Regions from separate parts of the Homo sapiens genome. Here all the other regions are reported to be linked to region 1. The links are microRNA targets in miRTarBase. Many come from high-throughput screens and were not tested one by one. Region 1 holds a microRNA gene; each other region holds the end of a gene's coding sequence.

The links. The annotated mature microRNA hsa-miR-6846-5p reads UGGGGGCUGGAUGGGGUAGAGU and lies in region 1 at 976-997, shown strand. An mRNA with a match to its seed (bases 2 to 7 or 8) in the 3' UTR can be bound and repressed. Matches are read on the target gene's strand: a 7mer-m8 pairs with bases 2 to 8, a 7mer-A1 pairs with bases 2 to 7 and ends in A, and an 8mer does both.
Region 2: the mRNA of G6PC3 is a reported target of hsa-miR-6846-5p. Seed matches in the 3' UTR shown: 8mer at 795-802.
Region 3: the mRNA of TBC1D28 is a reported target of hsa-miR-6846-5p. Seed matches in the 3' UTR shown: 7mer-A1 at 1,079-1,085.

Annotation. Positions count from the first base shown.
Region 1 is chr8:144,055,106-144,058,350 of GRCh38, reverse strand. It overlaps MIR6846 (microRNA 6846), which reads left to right and starts at 971; the gene lies at 971-1,030. It overlaps OPLAH (5-oxoprolinase, ATP-hydrolysing), which reads left to right. Exons shown (of 27, transcript NM_017570.5): 7 at 1-112; 8 at 203-341; 9 at 428-495; 10 at 638-903; 11 at 1,031-1,143; 12 at 1,233-1,403; 13 at 1,596-1,733; 14 at 1,828-1,966; 15 at 2,092-2,204; 16 at 2,412-2,563; 17 at 3,162-3,245.
Region 2 is chr17:44,075,453-44,078,697 of GRCh38, forward strand. It overlaps G6PC3 (glucose-6-phosphatase catalytic subunit 3), which reads left to right. Exons shown (of 6, transcript NM_138387.4): 6 at 228-892. The coding sequence ends at 591. It overlaps HDAC5 (histone deacetylase 5), which reads right to left. Exons shown (of 27, transcript NM_005474.5): 26 at 3,048-3,213; 27 at 1,301-2,963. The coding sequence ends at 2,924. Among named protein-coding and RNA genes, the nearest start is that of G6PC3, 6.3 kb to the left of the region's middle. RefSeq lists enhancers at 1-556, 1,574-2,113.
Region 3 is chr17:18,633,915-18,637,159 of GRCh38, reverse strand. TBC1D28 (TBC1 domain family member 28) reads left to right here. Exons shown (of 10, transcript NM_001039397.3): 10 at 563-2,913. The coding sequence ends at 698. Among named protein-coding and RNA genes, the nearest start is that of TBC1D28, 8.9 kb to the left of the region's middle.

The sequences.
Region 1 (3,245 bases):
TTCAGCGGCTCCAGTGCTGTGCTCTCGGGCCCGGCCGGCGGCGTGGTGGGCTACTCAGCCACCACCTACCAGCAGGAGGGTGGCCAGCCTGTCATCGGCTTTGACATGGGAGGTATGAGGGCCGAGGGCTGGGGTCTCGGGGAGGCTCAGCTGCTGGGCCCCTGGGTCTTCAAGTGACCCACCAGCACCCCACCCCTGCCAGGCACGTCCACGGATGTGAGCCGCTATGCTGGGGAATTCGAGCACGTCTTCGAGGCCAGCACAGCTGGCGTCACCCTCCAGGCCCCGCAGCTGGACATCAACACCGTGGCAGCGGGAGGGGGTTCCCGCCTCTTCTTCAGGTCAGCTCTCCTGCTTCCCAGGCTGGGACCCCAGCCCTGTCTCCCTCCTCGTGTCCAACTCCAACCCCAGCCCTTCCTTCCCCTAGGTCTGGCCTCTTTGTGGTTGGGCCCGAGTCAGCAGGAGCCCACCCAGGACCCGCCTGCTACCGCAAAGGTAAGAGTCAGGATCTGGCCGGCCTGGCCTTGCCCTCCGCTTGCCGCCGCAGGCCCAGCCCCTCCTGTCAGCCCTATCCCTGCTGCCTACTCCTGCTCCCCTGCCTCCAGCCCCCAAGCCCCACACCCTGTCCACCTCCCAGGGGGCCCTGTGACAGTGACGGATGCTAATCTGGTCCTGGGTCGCCTGCTGCCTGCCTCCTTCCCCTGCATTTTTGGGCCGGGAGAGAACCAACCACTTTCCCCTGAGGCCTCCCGCAAAGCCCTGGAGGCTGTGGCCACTGAGGTCAACAGCTTCCTGACCAACGGGCCCTGCCCGGCCTCCCCGCTGAGCCTGGAGGAGGTGGCCATGGGGTTCGTGCGCGTGGCCAACGAGGCCATGTGCCGGCCCATCCGTGCACTCACGCAGGTACGTCCACCTCTGCTCTCCCGCCTGTCCTGCCCCCAGCCCTGCTCCCTGCCCCAGGCCTCCTGCTCAGGCTGGGGGCTGGATGGGGTAGAGTAGGAGAGCCCACTGACCCCTTCTGTCTCCCTAGGCAAGAGGCCATGACCCCTCAGCCCATGTGCTGGCCTGCTTTGGGGGAGCTGGTGGGCAGCATGCATGTGCCATCGCCCGGGCCCTGGGCATGGACACGGTGCACATCCACAGGTGGGCCTGGGTGTGGGTGCACGGAGGTGGTGTGATCTGCGCCGGGCTTGGGAGGTGACCTCCCATTGCCATGCTGCCCATCCCTGCAGGCACAGTGGGCTGCTGTCGGCCCTGGGGCTGGCCCTGGCTGACGTGGTGCATGAGGCACAGGAACCCTGCTCCCTGCTCTACGCGCCTGAGACCTTCGTGCAGCTGGACCAGAGGCTGAGCCGCCTGGAGGAGCAGTGTGTGGATGCTCTGCAGGCCCAGGGCTTCCCCAGGTGGGCTCCCAGGGTGCCCTGGACAGAGGGCTTACGTTGTCCTCACCACGCCCTTGGTGGGTGTTCCTCCTGATGACTTCCCAGGTGGTCCCGGGGTGTGCGAGAAGCAGAACAGGTGTCCTTGCCGGGCGCTGGGTGGGGTGGGGTCAGGGCAGGGGGTTTGGTGTGAGTGCCCCCAACCACCTGCTGCAGGTCCCAGATCAGCACTGAGAGCTTCCTGCACCTGCGCTACCAGGGCACGGACTGTGCTCTGATGGTGTCTGCCCACCAGCACCCAGCCACAGCCCGCTCGCCCCGTGCGGGGGACTTCGGGGCAGCCTTTGTGGAGCGGTACGTGGCTTCCTGACTCCGGATCCCTGGCAAGGGGCCCTCCTGTCTGGCCGCCTCACTCTGACCACTCCTTGGGTCCCCGCGGGGAGTGCAGGTACATGAGGGAGTTTGGCTTTGTCATACCTGAGCGGCCGGTGGTCGTGGACGATGTGCGAGTGCGGGGCACCGGCCGCAGTGGTCTTCGCCTCGAGGATGCCCCCAAAGCCCAGACCGGGCCTCCCCGGGTGGACAAGGTTGGTGGTCCTGCCTGTGCCAGCCTGACAGCACCCATGGGGCACCGGGATGGGGACCAAGCCCTGTGAGAGGCATCGGGGAGGGTGCTGGGCCCGGGCGCTGTACTCACCCGCACCCTCTGCAGATGACCCAGTGCTACTTTGAGGGGGGCTACCAGGAGACCCCTGTGTACCTGCTGGCAGAGCTGGGCTATGGGCACAAGCTCCATGGGCCCTGCCTCATCATCGACAGTAACAGGTGGGCTGAAGTCCGGCCAGGGTGGAGGATGTGGACGGGTCCACTGCGGGGCCCCTGGTGCAGGGTTCTCTGGCCCAAGGCTGCAGGGGCCTGCAGGACTCTGTATCCCACCATCGTTGGGGTGGCCCCTGGCCTGGGGCCGTGGCATCTCTGGTTGGAGGGGTGTCGCCTGGCCCCATGCAGCCCTCTGTGCCCTCTGCTCCCCAGCACCATCCTGGTGGAGCCAGGTTGCCAGGCAGAGGTGACCAAGACAGGGGACATCTGCATCTCCGTGGGGGCCGAAGTCCCCGGCACAGTGGGCCCCCAGCTGGACCCTATCCAGCTGTCCATCTTCTCACACCGCTTCATGAGCATTGCTGGTGAGTGGCCGCTGCCAGGCTCCCTGTGGGATGAGGCGCCGGCTGTGTCATGGGGTAGCTGGCAGGGCTGTGCCCAAAGGGAGAGGCAGAAGCAGGACCCCCTGGCGACGGGGCGGGCAGTGTGGCCGCAGCACTGGTGTGGTGCAGTTGGCCATGAGAACAAACCTTGGGCAGGGAGGACACCTTCCCCCCTTACCTGCAGCCATGTGATCCAGAGAGTGCCCTCCTAGCTAAGGAAGGGATACTGAGGACAGCACAGGGAACCCATCTGTGCAGGGTCAGGCCAGCGGCTTGCTGGGAGCCCAGAGGTCAAGAGCCTAGGAACCAGGTTCTTGCTGTGCCAGGCAGGGTGGGAGGGTCGAGGGGTGGCACTGGGTTCTTGCTGGGGGCTCCAGGCAGGGCTGGGGAAGGTGGTGTCCTTTACATAGGCTAAGACGTGGCCAAGTGGGCACACCGTCAACTTGGTCTTCCCCAGGAAAAAGCTGCTGGGTTTTTCCTGGGTCCTGGGTTTGAGTCCTGGTGGGTCCTGTTCCTCCCTTTCCTGGGGCCAGGCTGTGGGTGGGTGGGGCCAGCGGGCCTGGTCACTTTGTGCTCCTAGAGCAGATGGGCCGCATCCTGCAGCGCACAGCCATCTCCACCAACATCAAGGAGCGTCTGGACTTCTCCTGTGCCCTCTTTGGGC
Region 2 (3,245 bases), not on the chromosome of region 1:
TAAGTCTCGCTTTGAAGCCTGGGCAGGCTGGGCCCTGTCCTATCTCGCCTGCACCTAGCCTGGTGTGTCTCTGGTTCATTATAGCTAAAAAAGGACACATTACCTATTCACATAGACCCTCACAGGCACAAAACAGAACATGGGAGTGGGCCCCAAGGGCAGATGGCCAAGAGCCAGTGGCCTTCTATGTTCCAGCCTCTCCTGGCAAGAACTCTTCTTCCCCACAGGTCCATCAGCCTAGCCTTCAAGTGGTGTGAGCGGCCTGAGTGGATACACGTGGATAGCCGGCCCTTTGCCTCCCTGAGCCGTGACTCAGGGGCTGCCCTGGGCCTGGGCATTGCCTTGCACTCTCCCTGCTATGCCCAGGTGCGTCGGGCACAGCTGGGAAATGGCCAGAAGATAGCCTGCCTTGTGCTGGCCATGGGGCTGCTGGGCCCCCTGGACTGGCTGGGCCACCCCCCTCAGATCAGCCTCTTCTACATTTTCAATTTCCTCAAGTACACCCTCTGGCCATGCCTAGTCCTGGCCCTCGTGCCCTGGGCAGTGCACATGTTCAGTGCCCAGGAAGCACCGCCCATCCACTCTTCCTGACTTCTTGTGTGCCTCCCTTTCCTTTCCCTCCCACAAAGCCAACACTCTGTGACCACCACACTCCAGGAGGCAGCCCCATCCCCTTCCAGCCCCTAAGTAGGCCCTCCCCTCCCTAAATCTGCTTCCGCACCACCTGGTCTTAGCCCCAAAGATGGGCCTTCTCTCTCCCAGATAAGTTGGTCCTCCCTCTGCCTTTCCTCTCAAGCCCCCAAAGAGCAAAGGCAACAGCAAGACCAGCGGGTTCTTGCAACACTGTGAGGGGCAGCCAGGGCGGCCCCAATAAAGCCCTTGAATACTTTGAGATTCCTTTCTTGCCTATGCGCACATCTCCATGGGCCTTGCCTGTGTGTGCACAAGTGGAACCTTTGCCAGGCTGCTCCAGTAGTCTCTGTGCCATCTCCAGCCCTGTTTCCAGGGGCAGAGAGGCAGGAAAGGAGAGGGCTGTAAACTCAGGTGAGACCTCTCAGCCCTGGGTCCCCTGCCTCATCACTGCCTAGGCCACATGAGAGGTCCCATGAGATGCTGTGACTATATTCGGTATAACCCTGTCTTTTCACTTACAGGACAGATCTTGCGCCCCAACCTCCAGTTTCCTAAATCGGCTTCTAGTCCAGGGGCTGGAGAAAAGAGTAGTGTGTTTGGCTAGGAAGGAGGATGAGAACCTCTACTCCATTTGGGAGCCCAGAGAATAGAGACATTGGCCCCAGAAGGCACTGCCAGAAACAAGTTTATTTACACAAGGACACACAGTGTAACGGGTTACAAAATACTTAACTGAAATCCATATCCAGGGAGACAAAGCAAGGAGTGGGTTTACATGAGAACCAGACCAGCCACAGGGAGAGAGTGGGTAAGGGGCCGGGAGCCTGGGGCTCAGCACAGAGAGGCCTAGTACACTGAGCCTGGCCCCATCCCCATCCCCCAGGAGGATCTAAAACAAACACACAAGCACACTATGAACCGATGGTGCTGGGACTCCTGCCCCTCCCCTGGCTCCCTCAATCCTGCTCAGGCCCCCATAGGATAATAAATATGTAAACAGATTGGTGGGGCCCTGGAGATAGAAGGAGAGAAAGTATATGTGGTACTGGGGAGGAGGAGGAAGGAAGAGTCAGCCCCCTAGGAGCCACTTCCCATCTTTGGTTTCCTACAGGCTGGATGGCATCCCCTGGAAGCCTTGTAGGCCCACAGCCCCTGGCAGGGCTCCTGGGAAAGAGAAGGGACAGCGCCCAGCCCCCTCCTGGTCTTAGCTCCCTTGGGCTGGTGGTCAGCAAAGGGAGCCCAGAAGGTATGGAAGCTCCAGCTGAGAGCCGACTCCTGGATCCCTGGGTTCTGGCCTTACCCCTTCTAGAACCTCCATTCTCACCATCCCCAGGATCCAAAACAAAAGGCCCCAGGAGGGAGGTGAGCCTCTGCCCCTTCTCCCCGCAGCATGCTGGATGGCTGGGAAAATCTGGTCCTGACAGCAGGGGGGCTCTCACCAGCCTGGAGCCCCTCTGCAGGGACCACCTTCTCCCCTTGCCCAGGCTGTGCCAGCAGAGGGGCAGGGAGGCCATCCGAGTAAGGTGGGGAGCAGACCTGGTTCTGTTACTCCTCCTGGCCCCTGAGAACCCAGGAAACCAGTCCTCTCCTTCCCCACACACTTTCACCCTCTCAGCCCCGGGGAAGGGGAAGTAGGCTGTGAGGAGTGTGAGGCAAGACAGCCCTCCTCACAGACTGCAGGCCACAGCTTGGGCACCAGCCTCCCATCAGTGCTGAGACCAAGAGGAAGGAGGAGGAGAGGGGTCTGCAGAGATGGTGAGGACGAAAGAAGGGGAAAGGGTGGAGAATCGCAGGGTGGGTGCCCACCTCCCCTCCACTCTGCATCTTAAAGACAGTAGTGGATCCTCCAGATCCTCCCCTGAGGCTGGAGAAGGGAGGAGAGTGAAATTAAGGCATTTCCCCCCAAATCAGCTGAAACCAAGGCACCGACTTCCCGTTCCCTCCTCACTCGGGGGGCCCCAGAACTGGAGAGTACTGTCTGGGCCCCCGTGCCCACCTTGAGCTGGCCCAGGCTCCAAGGAGGAAAAGGACAGACAGAATGCAGGAAAATGGGGGGAGGGACACATGGGACAGGGCTGGGAAGACACCACCACCCCCTGCAGAGGGAGCAGGCTTCTAGAGCTGAGGTGGAAGCCACAGGGCTGGGGGCCTGAGGCAGCGTAGAGGAGCAGGAGGGGCAAGGCTGAGAGACCCACACGGCACACCTTGTTGAATGTGTGACTTTTTGTTTTTAATAGAAAAAATAAACAAAATCACAATGGTGAAGCCCAGAGGGATGGGGGCCGGGGCGTCACAGGGCAGGCTCCTGCTCCATGGGCTCCTCTGCCGGCCTGTGGGGCAAGCACAGGGGAGGGTATTGAGTGGGGCGCACCAGCAGGGGTGAGGGCAGAGAGGTGGTGCGGGTTGCTGCTTACCTGGGGCTGTGTTCCCGGGCTGCCGCAGCCTGGGCCTGCTCGGCCCCCACCGACAGCAAGGCCATGGCGCTCACAGTCTCGGCCTCCTCGGTCTCACCTGCTTGGGCCTCTCGCAGGGACCGGCCCAGACCAGCGGCGAACTTCTGCACACAGCTCCAGTGTTTGCCTGTGGACGAGAGACAGGCAAGGGGTCAGGGA
Region 3 (3,245 bases), not on the chromosome of region 1:
ACATGGGTGGATCTTAGATGAGTATTGCTGAGGGAATGACGCCAGACCCAACAGGCTACCACCATGGGATTCCAATTCATTGGCCATTCTGGGAAAGGGCAAACCATAGAGACAAAGAACAGATCAGGATGGCCAGGGGCTGACAGAGCCGGGAGACGTTGCCTGCAAAGGGGACATGCTAGGGACTTGGAAGATGAAGGAGCCGCTCTGGGAGGGGCTGCAGTGGTGGACGGGAGGCTCTGCACATTAGTTCAGAATCGTGGAACTGCACGTCCCAAAGACTGGACTTCTGTGTGTGCAAACTGAGAAAAAGGGGAAGAAAAAATCAACCAGAGTGAAAAATGATCACTGATCCAACTGTACACCTACGACATTGCATTGCAAGGAATGTGGATTTTACTGAAAAAAAATTCCTAAAAACTCAGGTGTCCTAAAGAGCTCACTGCTTATTTGGGGGGATCATCTGAACCCAGAATTGTGTTCGTTATTTGGGTTTGTAGACAAAATGAAATTGACAGCGTCTGCACAAAAAAAACAAAACCCTCTTTCCCCTCTTTTCTAGGCAGCAGGAATTATGTGACATCCTCGTGGCCTATTCTGCATATAACCCTGTGAGTATTCCCGGGCAGCGATATTCCTGGTACCTGTGCCCATATTCACAGGCATGGGTGTCTCTCGGGGGTGTTGCAACTTCTTGAAAATTCAGCGTTTGTCCACCAGGACGTAGTAGGCAGGACTTCAGCTCGCTGCTGGCAGAAAAGGGTTGAAGCCCAGACTCCTGGTCTCACATGGACCCAATCACCACATCTCAGATGAAGAAATGACCTTCCCCTCCTGGTGTTGCCCCAAAGCCTAGGAGCTTGGCAGGGTCCCACACAGGATGGTCCTTGTAGGAGACAGGTTTGACAAGTTGCTGAGGTGCCTGATGGGCCAGGCACTTGTCATGAAATGAGTTTGCATCCTGGGGGAGCCTCTTCTTCACTGGAAACCTGGCAAGGATCCAATTTCCCCTTTGCCTGATCCCCACAGGAGCATAGCAGATAGGGAGGGGGGTCACCCAGGTGGCTCTTCCTGCTTGGCCCCCACTTTCCAGACCATTCCAGGCAGGGAGAGCTGCTGAGCTGACTGCATGAGCTGCCCACATGGAGGACCCAGCCACCCCTTATGTTCGGCAGGCAGCCCTTGGGCTGTTGCAGGACCGTGGCCAGTTCTTGGTATTGCTCAAGTCCCCTGGGCCTTCAGACTGGCGGGTGACTTCAAGGGAGCAACCATCCTGGGCCTCTCCTGGGACAAACACTTGCCTTCACCCACTATCGATGTCTTGCTCAGCCCTCAGAGGAGCGTGGTTGGCGTGGATTACTTCATGCCTTGATTCTGCCTTCCCGGAAACCACGGTGGCAGCAGGCTTGGATGTCACCAAGTCACCGTGTTTCATGCTATTTCTGGAGGTTCTCGCCTTTGTGGCCTCGGAAAGGAAGGCGATCTGGTGCTTTGGGGAAAGCCCTCGGGATGCTCCTCCAGATGGTCTTCTTCAGGCCTTTTGCTCAGCATTGGTCTGATCAGTTCTGCCAGCTCTGGGCCATGATCTCTTGGCACTGGCGCGGCTTTCCTTCAATAATTCCATAAACTCCAGACTTCGTGTCTTTTGCATGGAAAGCACGCGGTGCCCATTTCATCGACACCGCACCCCGGAGTCCAAACGTCAGCCCTGCGGGTGTTGGGTTTGTTAGGGACAATTTCGGGCTCAGGTGCAGGGGGCGCTTCCCCAGCGCGGGCGCTTCCTGGGCCCCATCTGAGGCCGTGGGCTCCTGGCAGGAGGACCTGGAGTTTTCAGATCCCCGGGAAGGATGCATTTCCCCCACTCTCGGGCACAAGCTGCCCTTTGCTGGCGTTGGGCACGGATCATGGCCTCGCAGAAGCCCGCGACAGCGTGGAGCAGGTGGTGCCCCCGCCCGGGACTCCTGGTGGGTGATGGCTCCGGGAGGCCTTGGCTGGGACAGAGTGGGGCCTCCGGGTCGGTCAGCGGCCCGAGCCCGGCTGCGGCTCTCGGAGGCTTGGGTTTGGAAGACACCGCCTGCCATCCCGCGGCGCCTCTCGGGGTCCGCTCCCCCGGACTGGCCCTGCCCACCGCGCGCGAGTAGTAGCGGGCGGCCAGGAGTCAGTGGCAGGCGCGGCCGGTGGGATGCCGGGTAGGAGGCTGCGCTGGAGCCCGCTGGGCAGCGCCGACCCCTAAGGCAGCCGGGCGGGTGAGCGAGCAGAGGCGTGGGCGGCTGAGGGGCTGAGGGGCTGAGGCGGCTGAGGCGGCTGAGGGGCTGAGGAGGCTGAGGGGCTGAGGGGCTGAGGCGGCTGAGGGGCTGAGGGGCTGAGGGGCGGGCAGCCTGGCCGGTCCCTGCCGCAGGGTCCACCGCACGTCACGTGGCCGAATCCCTCGGGCTGCTTTCTCTCTGGGCTGTTTTCTTACTGTGAACCTCGTGGGCTCCTGCTCGGTGTCCTTTCTTACTCTGTCTCTGTTTTTGCATTCTATTGGCAAGTATTTTATTTAGGATATTTTACTGATATAACTGAGGATGAACTGTGTTTTGCAGCATTTTGTTTTATTACGCGTTTTCTCCTAGATTTTGGTATCATTTTTATGCTGACTTGATTAAACATTTTGGAAACTTTCCTGGAACTGATAGCTTTTATATGATCTTTTTCTTGAGGTAATAAAATAATTTACTTTGAAATGTCTCAGCCTAACAACTTTTGTGCTTTTGTTGTTTTGTGCAGAGGTGGGAAGACTCCTTTGCATTTTTGGTATCACTTCTGTGTTAATGATTTTGTTGTTTGTTTCGCAAAATCACTTAGTGATCCGTGTTTTCCAACTTAAGAGTTAACATGTACCATTTTGTGAAATAAAAAAAGTCTCGTATATCTCTTTGTATGTCTCTTTTCGTTTGTCATATTTGGAATTGCCTTTTTTTTTTATCATTAGTTTAAAGCAGGAATTTATTAAATATTCCAAAAAGACCGAAGTTTTACTTCATCTCCTAGGCATTCATTTTTCAGTGTGTTATTCACTGATTTCTCCATGTTCATTAATATTTGGAATAATTTATGTAAATTGATTATTGCTGCGTTATGAGCTTATGGAGCAACATTCTTTGTCTTCAGTATTTTAATGTATTTTTCTATTAAATATACTTCAGTCACTTATACCATATTTAGGATTATTTTCCTAATTCTAGACCTACTAATTATAAACT